3 linked regions of the Homo sapiens genome follow. The protein of the gene in region 1 purifies or fractionates together with the protein of each later gene. This does not show direct contact. Each region holds a gene or a part of one and is shown in the gene's direction. Other genes may lie near its edges.

Region 1 (3,748 bases):
TTTATTTATGGAGATGGAGTTTCGCTCTTGTCACCCAGGCTGGAGTGCAATGGCATGATCTCGGCTCATTGCAACCTCCACCTCCAGGGTTCAAGTGATTCTCTTGCCTCAGCCTCCCAGGTAGCTGGGATTACAGGCGCCCGCCACCACGCCCGGCTAATTTTTTTATTTTTAGTAGAGATGGGGTTTCACCATATTGGCCAGGCTGGTCTCAAACTCCTGACCTCAGGTGATCCCCCCACCTCGGCCTCCCAAAGTGCTGGGATTACAGGCATGAGCCATCGCGCCCAGCCCTGTCTCAAATTTAAAAACACAACCAGAAAGGCAGGGCGCGGTGGCTCACGCCTGTAATCCTAGCACTTTGGGAGGCCGAGGCGGACGGATCACGAGATCAGGAGATCGAGACCATCCTGGCTAACACGGTGAAACCACGTCTCTACTAAAAAAAAAAAAAAAATACAAAAAAATTAGCTGGGCATTATGGCGGGCGCCTGTAGTCCCAGCCACTCGGGAGGCTGAGGCAGGAGAATGGCGTGAACCCGGGAGGCAGAGCTTGCAGTGAGCCGAGATCGCGCCACTGCACTCCAGCCTGGGCGACAGAGCGAGACTCTGGCTCAAAAAACAAAAACAGAAAGAAGAGGAAAGGACACAGATCACAGTCACAGAGAAAAAAAGGTCACCTGAAGAGGGATATGCGGAGGGAAAGTAGAGGCTGGAGTGATGCTGCTACAAAGAATCCTTGACCAAAGAACGCCAGAGATTGCCAGGAACCACCAGTGGCTGGAAGAGGCAAGGAAGGCTTCTCCCCAGAGCCACTGGAGGGGGCATTGCCCTGCTGGCCCATGGATTTTGGAGTTAGCCTCCAGAAATGTGCAAGAATACATTTCTGTGTGTTAAGCCACTGAGTCTGTGGCTGTTACCACAGCCCTGAGAAACTCACACAACCTACACCTGGAAGCTGGATTCCTTCAGCTTCTGTGTTCTGATTCCAAAGCCTGGGGGAAAGCAGGATGGGCCTAGCTGGGGTCAGATGTCCGCCCCACAGAACCCAAAAGCCACTAAAGCTAAGGGCAGGAAATAGATGTGGGTTTCGGAGCTGCCCCTTCCAGTATCCTTGATAACCATCACCCTATCCAAAAGGCATTAATTCATATCTCAAGGTCAATTTGGAGGGAGGTCTCTCCAAGCAAGCCCCAGAGTTCTGTACACCTATCAGCTCCTGGGGCAAAGACACAGACGGCTGTAGCCACCGGTGTGGATGAGACAAGGCCAGGAAAGTACCGCTCTGATGACAGAATCAGAAGGACTCTGTGCAGGTTAGAGAGTTAGCAAGGTGATACTGAATGAGGACGACGATAAAACCCAACTCTTGGGTTCCAAGAGTCAACTTCACAAGCAAAATGTGGACGACGCCTGGCTTCACCGCGGCAGTGCCTTGTGAGAAAGACCTGAGGATTTTCTCTGACCAGCCGGCTTAGAGCTTCAGTTGCACGAAAAGCACAGCACTTTTGGCTGGGCTGGGGCGGTGATAGGCCTTTCGGGCTCGGTGCAACCCATACCTAAGACAGAGAGGCAACACAGGCGCCTCCAGAGAACCAGAGGTGCAACCGGGCCACCAGGCTACGTGGCAGAGGTTGCGGGGTAAGGGGGAGGTGGGATGCCTGGGGAGAGGTCAGCGGAGTTATCAAACTAAGGTTCCCGGGCAATGATGGGGCCAGGAGGCAGAGCGAGCAAACGGGGATGATCTGGGGTCTATTCCAAAGAGGTGGCGGGGGAGGTGGTGCTGCTGTGCCCCCAGTCACGGCCATCTCGGCTCCAGAGCCCTGGAGAGCAGTTCCCGGGTTCACACGGACTCTGAAGACAAGCGTATCCTGAGGGTGGACGACTCCTGGAAAGTCCACGCCCAGGCTGGCCTCAGGGGTCCGCTTCTCTGCGTCTCGCCCCGTGCCCGCAGGCGACAGAGTGGCTGGTGTGCTCGGGGGGCCTCCCAGGGCGCGGCGGCCTGCGCCCCTGCCACCTGGGGCTGCTCCCTTTGGAACCTCCTGTTCGCAGGCGGCTCCTCGGCCGTCCGCTCGGAGCTGGGGCGAGGGGCTGGCGGCGGCGAGCGGCGCGGCCCCAAGTTTATGCTAATCCGCAAAGAGCCCGCCTCCCGCCTCCCCTCCGCGGCCCCAGCCGCTAGCAGCGCCGGCCACTCCGCGGGACGCAGCCGCCGCGAAGCGCCAGGCGGCCGGGCCAGCGAGCTCGGGGGCCGAAGGGGACCCCGGGACCCTCGGGGCGGGACCCGGGCCGACCAGCGGCGGGGGCGGCGCGGCGCTGCAGGCGGACACCCGGCGGGGGGCACCGCGCGGGGCCGGGCAGAGGCGCGGGGGCCGCTATGGGCCGCCGCCGCCTGCTCGTCTGGCTGTGCGCCGTCGCGGCGCTGCTCTCGGGGGCGCAGGCCAGGGGCACCCCGCTCCTGGCGCGGCCTGCGCCGCCCGGTGCCTCCCGCTACAGTCTCTACACGACGGGATGGCGCCCGCGGCTGCGCCCGGGGCCGCACAAGTAAGCGCGGGCGGGCGGCGGGCGGGAAGAGGGAGGGATGGGCCCGCGCGCGTCGCCGCTCCCACCTGCCCGCACCCGCGGGGGGCGTCGAGGCCCCGGGCACCCCGAGGCCGCTGCACAGAGGGGGCGGCGCCCGGGGCCGAGCCCCTGCCCAGGCGAGCGCCCTACGCTCCGGGAGGTTGCGGGGCTGGCGAGGAAAAAGGAACCGAGGGGGCCTGGCGCGGCGGCTTGGGATCCTGGCAGTGCCAGCGGAAACCTTTCCAGCGAAGTAACATTTTCCAGCTGCGCTGTGTGCAGACTCCGGGCGAGCGGACCAGGTGGAGGGAGAGGAGGAAAGGCGGTCCGCGCGCTGAGCACGCGGGGCTCCCCCGCCCCGGGCCTCCCTTCTCTCCCCTGGCCCGGCCAGGTAGGAGATAGAGCTGCGCATCCGGGCGGCCGCTGCCCTCTCGCAGTCAGCCTGGCCCCAGCAACCCCATGGGAGCCCCAGCGTGGCCGGGCTGCAGAGCCAGAGCGGGCTCCTGGCTCCGGGCCTGTGCTGTGGCACAGCCGTCCACAGCGGTCGGCTTATGCCAGGCAGCCACCTCCTCAGCCCTTGTGGCTCATCAAGGAGCCTGCTTTCCCCGCCTCAGCTTCTGGTGTTTCGTGGGCAGTGGCTTGCGAACTGGCCTCAGTTAAGTGGGCTGGAGGCTCTGCCTGGGGTGCTGGCTGAACTTGAATTCTAGCTGAATTTGAGAGCTGTTGTAGGAGGAAGAGTACCGACACTCAGTGGGCCTGGGTACATCACAGCGAGCCTCCTGGAGGAGGTGGTACAAGAACTGCTCTGAGAGTAAGGGAACAGGACCAAAGGCAGGGGCTGCAAAACTACGAGGAGAGGTGGATTTCCCCGGGAGCCAGGCAGGGAGGAAGGACAAGACATGGTGCTCTCAAAGGAGTCACTGAGTGGGGACTCGGAAGCCTTAAATGCCAAGATAAGGAGTTTGGAATCAGCGAAGGATGGGGGGGTGTGGCAGGGCACTTGAGGGAGAATCCGGGCTGGCCTCTTCCCCACGCAGGGAGGGGCAGCCACATCAGGCTCCTGGTTCCAAATAGTGCTTAGCCCAGGGGCCACCCATCACGGAGGCTGGAATCAGAGACCAGCAGCGGGGCTGGACCCCAGACCAAGGGCGTTGGCTCCCAGGGACACAGAGAACAGACAGAAGAGACATGG
Region 2 (3,748 bases), on another chromosome or scaffold:
TAAACAGTTGTAGTTGATAATCACTTACAGGAAAAGTTCTGACTGGCTCTAGACAAAAACAAAAATATTAAAGCCTCTTAGAAGTCAGAGATGTTGCAGATTTTGGAATTCCATATTAAACTTAGAGGAGATGTGAGAAAGAGCAAGGTGTGCACTTGCTCTTTTCCACCCCCACCTGGCTGTATGCTGCTGCTCTTGCCACAGCAAAGTGTCAGAGAGCCAAGGTGGCAACTGTCAACCCCACGAAACTGTGTAGGAAACATTAACTCTGCAGTCAGAGATAATGTGATGACATAATTGTTACTTCTCTAGGTAATGGTAATTATACTATGCTGTAGAGAAGAATTTAAATTATAAGTTCAGTATTTTCACTGCTTTCCTTTTCTTCCCTTTTCTCTCCATGCTGTTTAATTTAGGATGAAGGAAGAAACCAAGCTTAAGGACCAGAATTTTAAAAGACCTGTTAATACATTATTTTAGGCTGTATCAGTATGGGTGGGGGTATTCTTGCTTTTCGCAGCTTATTACTGCAAGCAAACTAATGCTTTCTTGCTGGTGCTTTTTTTAGACATTCAGGTTTTGATGGGAAGCCTTGTGTACCTGAGACAAGGGATTGAGAACTCACCATATGTTCACCTACTTGATGCAAACCAGTGGGCTGATATCTGTGACATCTTTACACGGGATGCTTGTGCCCTCCTGGGGCTCTCCGTGGAGTCCCCTCTCAGTGTCAGGTATGGAAATTAGCCCTGTCTGTTATTGAAGTATGCACTGCATTATCACCTTCCCTTAACTTGTTTGGTTCTTGATGTTTAAAGCCAAAATAACTTTTGTCTTTCCAAAGAAGAGTGCAATTGGTATTTCAAAAGATATCACAATTGGCAGTGATGCTGTTTTAGAGAAGCAGTTTTGAAAGTGTGGTGTATGAACCTCACAGGATCCTGAGAGCCTTTTCCACTGTATTGACATTAGTACAGATGGTCCAGAAACAGTGGTGGACTAAACTGCTAGAGCCTTAGCACAAGTTGGGGCGGTGGTACAAACTCCACGAATAGCTGGATTCCTCACCACCACACACTTGCAGTTTAAGAAATGCTAGTTTTACTTAACCACGTCTGTAATCTCAGCATTTTAGGAGGCCTAGGAGGGTGGATCACGAGATCAGGAGTTTGAGACCAGCCTGGCCAACATAGTGAAACCCGCCTCTACTAAAAACACAAAAAATTAGCTGGACGTGGTGGCGGGTACCTTTAATCCCAGCTAGTCGGGAAGCCGAGGCAGAAGAATCGCTTGAACCCAGGAGGCGGAGGTTGCTGTGAGCCAAGATTGCACCATTGCACTCCAGCCCGTGCAACAATGCGAGACTGTCTCAAAAAAAAAAAAAAAAAAAAAGAAAAGAAAAAAAGAATATTCTTGGCCTGGTGTGGTGGCTCACATCTGTAATTCCAGCACTTTGGGAGGCTGAGGTGGGGGGAATCTCTTGAGGCCAGGAATTCAAGACCCACCCGGGTAACACAGCTAGACTCCATTTCTACAGAAAACTTTTTTAAAAAAGGATGTTCTTGGTGAAACATTAAAATTATTAGTTTTATTAAATCTTGACCTTTCAGTACACATCATCTTAATAATTTGTATGACAAAATAGGAAATCCACATAAAGCACTTCAGTTTCATGTCAAAGTATGGTAATTGTCTTGAGAAAAAGTATGTTGTTTTGAGTTATGAGCTAGCTGGTCACTTTTTTTCATGGAATACTTGTTTTGTTTGTTACTTGTTTTTTTCTTGCTTTTTTGAGATGGAGTCTCCCTCTGTCCCCTGGCTGGAGTGTAGTGGCGCAATCTCAGCTCACTGCAGCCTCCACCTCTTGGGTTCAAGCGATTCTCCTGCCTCAGCCTCTGGAGTAGCTGGGATTACAGGCGCCTGCCACCACGCCCAGCTAATTTTTGTATTTTTAGTAGAGACAAGGTTTCATCATGTTGGCCATGCTGGTCTCGAATTCCTGACCTCAGGCGATCCACTGCCTTGGCCTCCCAAGGTGCTGGGTTTATAGGCGTGAGCCACCGCACCAGCCTTGGAATAGTTTTTACTTGGAAGAATCATTAACATAGTTACGCACACTCAGGTTTTTGGCAGTCTTTTTTTTTTTTTTTTTTTTTGTCTTTTTTCTTAAATTTTTAAGACATTCTTGCTATGTTGTTCAGGTTGGACTCAAACTCCTGGGCTCAAGTGATTCTCCTGCCTCAGGCTCCTGAGTAGCTGGGAGTACAGTTGTGTGCCACATCACCCAGCCATTTTTTTAAGTGAACGAAGCAAGCCTGTCACATTTGAAAGGTCTTAATTAAGTATGATTTTACAAAAGCATGCATGAGTAAAAGAGTCATTCAAAGTACAAGACAGACAAATGGATTTTAATGTAGCAGGGTACAAAAAGTTTAATGGTAAAGTTTCAGATTCTGCTCTGCAGCGAACCTTTAGAAAACTACTACCTGTTTTGGCCAAAACTATGAAAAGTCAGTTTTCGTGTGGTATTAAGGAGGAGTATCCACAATGATCCAAAGTGATCAAAGTAGTACTACACATATGTGTGAAACAAGGTTTTTTTTCATTTACCTCAACCAGAAGAACGTATCACAATAGATTTAATGCAGAGTAAACTATAAGAATCCAGCTGTCTTTCTGTTAAGGTAGGCATTCAGGAGAGTTGTGAGAGTTTGGAACAGTGCCACTCTTCTCACACATATATTTTTGTTTTGGAAACTGTAGTTATTTTTTTATAAGAATGTTTGCAATAATGGCATGGTATTTTATTTTTACATGAACTAATCGGCACCTTTTATGTTTCTCATTTTAATTTCTAATGTATTAAAGATATAATCCACAAAAAGAAAAGCTCTTTGAGATCCTTAATACTTAAGCATATAAAGGGGTCCTGAAACCAAAACATTTTAAGAAACTGTTGTAAGAAAATAACTCTTTTTTAGCTCTTCTATTCATTTAATTCCACAAATGTTTTGCATACCTGCTATGTGCCAGGCACTGTGGGCACTGTGTTGGATATGAAGATGAATAAGGTGCATTCCACAGGGTGCTCCATCCTAGCGTAGGAGTGGACAGATGCAATTAGCTATAATGTGAGGCGCTGATGCCATCAAGTTCTCTGAGGAAGACTCTAAAGTGGGAATGTACATGCAGAAAGTTTACTGACATCAGCACCTGTGGGAGAATGAAAACAGCAGGATTGGGCAGAGAGGAAAGTTGGACTGTATTAGAGTGGCAACAAGGTGTCTCCCATCCGTGAGGAGCTCTGGAGCTGCTGTGGGCCCGTGGAGTTGTCCCAAATTGGGCCTATAGGGCTGGGGTTTTGTACCCTCACATGGAGCAATTGCTGGATGTGACTCTGGTCAGATGACTCTCTTCAACTGAGGACAGTCCTGAAGAGACGGACACAGCTGAGAGTTGGCTGCCAACACTTCCAGATCTGAGAAATGAGTGCTTCCACCCTGGACAGGGGTGATCTGGGGATAAGAGGAACTATGCAAAAAAAATGTTTCAGGAGCAAGCATGTCATTTGACTGATAAGCTGAGCCCATTAAATCCAGTTGTTTTGTGCAATATAAAACCTTTTTTGGCACTAATGTAAGATTATTATGAAATTCTTTATATTTTACTTTTTGAAACAGGGTCTCATTCTGTTGCCCAGGTTGGAGTGCAGTGGCACGATCGTGGCTCACTGCAGCCTCAACCTCCT
Region 3 (3,748 bases), on another chromosome or scaffold:
TGTAGTATTTAAACTTGATTGATACCATCAAAATAAACGTACATTTTCAAGACTTATATAATGAGCTTTGTTTTGTAAAAACACTTGTTGCACAATATAACTGAGTGAGGTTTAAAAAAATACAACAGCTAGGAAAAGATTTGAACTGAAAAATTTGTACATTTCAATATAGAGAAATTAGAATGGAGAATATATTTTATTTAGCAGAGTGTGTTTTGAGCTTAATACGTATCTCACCACTTAATTTTCCATTTAAAACATTATAGTCTTCAGAGAAGCATTCGTTAAAGCTGTCAGTAATTTCAAATTTATGTGAAACTGTGATGATTTCAGGAAATTTTATGAACAAATTAAAAATAAGAAAGGCCACATTGAAAAAAATTGCATTCTTTGGAAAAATGCGAGTATCTGGTATTGGAGAAAATACAACTAAGAAACTGATTAAAGTATGTGAATATGTACCAAGAGTAAGTATTCTGCTTATGCCACGTTTAACATTTAGGTAATTGATAAAAAGAAGTTTCATAAAATTATATATGTGTGTATATATACATATACGTCACTGTTAAGGGTTTTCTATTAAAAAAAGCAAAAAGCAATAAAAATAAAATGTGAAATAAATTTTAAAGCAAAAAACAAAATTCTAAATAGGTCTGAAGATTAATTACAGCTTAGTTACAGCTGATGTTATTTAAAACAGCATTCCATGATACTGCTTAGTTATCATAAATGAGGCCCACTAAACAAAAAGTTTCGGTAACTTCTCTACTGGGCAGAAATTATTTTAATTATTGTGTTAGCAAACGGCTTAATAGAAATGATAATGTGATATACATTATTTCTCATTTAAATTTTCCTCTAAACATAAAATTTTACAACCATGAAACTGAAGGAGTCAACCTGTTCAATGACTATAAAGCTGCGTGGCAAACAAGCTAAGTGGGAATTAAAACAGCTTAGGCAAAAATAAATAAAAATTGTAGCTTTTTAAAAATCAATTTTCATCCCCCTAATTCTGGAGAATTTATACTCTGCCTCTTTTGCTTGTGTTTTAGGAAAGAAGCCCAAAATTCAGGGTACATGAATTAAAATTAAATACTAAGATCAGTAAACCTCAATTGGCACGAATAAACAATATGAAAGAGTAAGCACAAACACGATCTATTTGTTTATCCATCTTTCTTATTGTGATAGCTATACTATGAAATTTCTAAAACTAGATGGGAGACTGGCTTAATATTTTGGCAAATAACCACATGCAAGTTAATGAGGAATGGGAAATAGAGCACTCTGGATTTTAGCATAAACAATTAAAATAAAAAATGCTACATTTCCTATTCCATCAGTTGACGGTATACTTATTTTCCCGGGAGAAATTTGGAATCTAAGCAACTCAGGTCCAGTAAGTGCAAACAACTGACATGCTTAGTCCAACAGGCCCCTGTGAGCAGGCCCTCTAGGGCATTTCCTGACGCCACATGACCAAGACCTTCCCCCCTAGTGGACGCTGCGGGTGATCAAGTGGCCCTGAGGAGCAGGGGCCTGAGACCCAGTCAAGCCTGCTGTCAACCTCCATCTGATGGAGGCCACGTCCTTTTCATGAGGCTGGTAGGAATGTCGCTGTATACCCCCACTATTTCTATTTTCGCAACATTCTTCCCAGTCTTTTCCTTCCTTCTCTTCGTCCCAGCCAAAGTAAAAGCATCCCTGGAATTTAATGGACTGAAAGGAGACCGGACGACTGAGGGGTAGAACGGGGCCCGAAGTGGCTTTGGAAGCAACGGGGTTAAGGGAGAGGCAAAAGGGTTGAGCAGAGAGAGGCAAGAGGCAATCTCCCCCTACCCAACTGCCCCTCCCAGGAGCAGATACGGCACCAACAGCCGGCGAGTCCCTCCGGCCTGGAAGACAAAGGAAGGATCAGGGCCCAGTGGTGACGGGGAGGGTGGGGGCAACGACTCGCGTGAGCTCGGAGACGTGAGAACGCAGCCCCCGCCCCGTTCTCCGCCTCCCCTGAGAAAGGCGGGGCCCCCACGCCGCCCCGAGACAGGTCTCCCCGCCGCGCCGGCAGCGGGTCCCAGGCGGCCGCACACGCCCAGGCACGGGATGCTGCGGGAGAGCGCGGTGGGGGAGGGGAAGGACGCGGAGGCGGAGCCGGCGGGCAAAGAAAGGCCGAGCGGCGGGGCGGGGGCGGGGGCGGGGGCGGGGTCTGGGCTGGGCGGGCGGGGCGGAGCCGGCCGGCCGGGGGCTGCCTGAGACAGTTACTGCCCTGACGGCGGCGGCGGCGGCGGTTGGCCGGTGGGGGCTGGGGCGAGCACGACCGATTCTGCTGGGAAAGCTGGAACTGGCAGCCGCCGGGGGCCAAGAGGAGGATCCGGAGCTGGGAGCGTGCCCCGGGCCCGGCGGAGGAGGCGGCTGCAGTTGGAGTGGAGTCTTGGGAGCGCTGCTGGCAGCGACTTCTCAGCGAAGCAAGTGTCTGAGACTGAGAGTCCCTAACAGCGGCAGCGGCGGCCACGGCGGCGGCTGGGGCCGAGGTAACCGGGGGGCGGCGGCGGCGGTGGAAGCGAGGCCCCTCCCTCGGGTTGGAAGCTGGGAGGCCGAGGCCGTGGCTTGGACCTGACCCAACCACCCACCCTCTCCGGCCTCGAGCCCCAGATTTGCCCTCTTCCCTCGCACCGCCGTCGGCCGGGTGGGAGCGGGAGCGGGGCATGGGGCGGGAGCGCAGAGGCGGAAGCCGACCGGGAGGCGACCCCTCGTCTGGGATTGGCAAGGACCTCAGTCACCCCCTCCCCCTTCAAAAGACACACCCCAATCTCGGTGCGGGGCGGGGTGCAGAGGCGCTCCCAGCCTCTGGAAGGGCAGACCTCGGTGTGGAGGCTGCACCTTCGCTCGTGGCCTCTCTGAGGTGGCTCCCCTGTGGCTCCTCTGGGCGGTTCCAACCCAAGGTGGTGCCCGGCGCTGGGAATCCCGGAGTTCCTTTTGTCTGTCAGCTGAAACTGGAGGCCGGACCTGTGGGCAGACACCCACCAGCACCGAAGCACTCTACTCTTTATCCCTTTCCTGTCTTGGAAGGAATTTCTCTCTAGCAGCCTTTTCTCCGGCCAGACTGGTAGATTTTATCCCTGACCTCCATCCTTGGCCCAGAGGAAGGAAGGATTCACATTTTACTTGTGTTTGCTTTATCATTCTTATAAGAACAGTCATCCCCCATCGTTTTTGTTTTTTTTTTTTAAACCGTTTCCCATCCAGCTGCAACCCTGGTAATCTTCCCCTAGATTTTTGCACATTATCAACAAAGAAGTGTGGCTGGAGGAGTAGACAGTCCTTGACTGACTGGACTGTGTAAGTTAATAGAGCTTCCTTAGCTGGCGCTGTTCTACCAGTCTACTGTGAATGAGCGTTTTGCCTGGAGTTAAGGGTGTTACTGTATGTGCGTAAAGTTTCTCCCCCCCTCCTTTGCTATGGTGAAGTTGCAAAAATCTTGGGTAACTTGATTAAAATGTGGCTGTTTGGGAAGCATAACAATGAGGAAGAAAAATGCAGAAGGGAGAATGTGATTATTTCAGTGGTTTTTGTCCAACTTTTTGAAAGTGCCAAAGGTGAAGTACGTGGATTTTTGAGATTACGTTAACTGGTACACTGCAACCTTTATTGTCCTTAATAAGTTTTTAACATATGATATTTTGCACTGAGGTATTTTTGTTTGTTTTATTTTAGTTACTTGTGGAAATTGTTGATTACCCGGACGTCT

Evidence for each region.
Region 2: the proteins of EMILIN3 (region 1) and RMND5A purify together in Homo sapiens (co-immunoprecipitation; 2 studies listed by BioGRID and IntAct, with this or other methods). This does not show direct contact.
Region 3: the proteins of EMILIN3 (region 1) and ANKRD50 purify together in Homo sapiens (co-immunoprecipitation; 2 studies listed by BioGRID and IntAct, with this or other methods). This does not show direct contact.

Annotation. Positions count from the first base shown.
Region 1 is NC_000020.11:41,365,261-41,369,008, reverse strand, and holds the start of EMILIN3 (EMILIN-3 precursor), read left to right. Parts: upstream 1-2,190; 5' UTR 2,191-2,374; coding exon 2,375-2,541; intron 2,542-3,748.
Region 2 is NC_000002.12:86,765,291-86,769,038, forward strand, and holds part of RMND5A (E3 ubiquitin-protein transferase RMND5A), read left to right. Parts: intron 1-568; coding exon 569-734; intron 735-3,748.
Region 3 is NC_000004.12:124,711,241-124,714,988, reverse strand, and holds the start of ANKRD50 (ankyrin repeat domain-containing protein 50), read left to right. Parts: upstream 1-2,256; 5' UTR 2,257-2,531; exon of another isoform or gene 2,532-3,714; 5' UTR 3,715-3,748.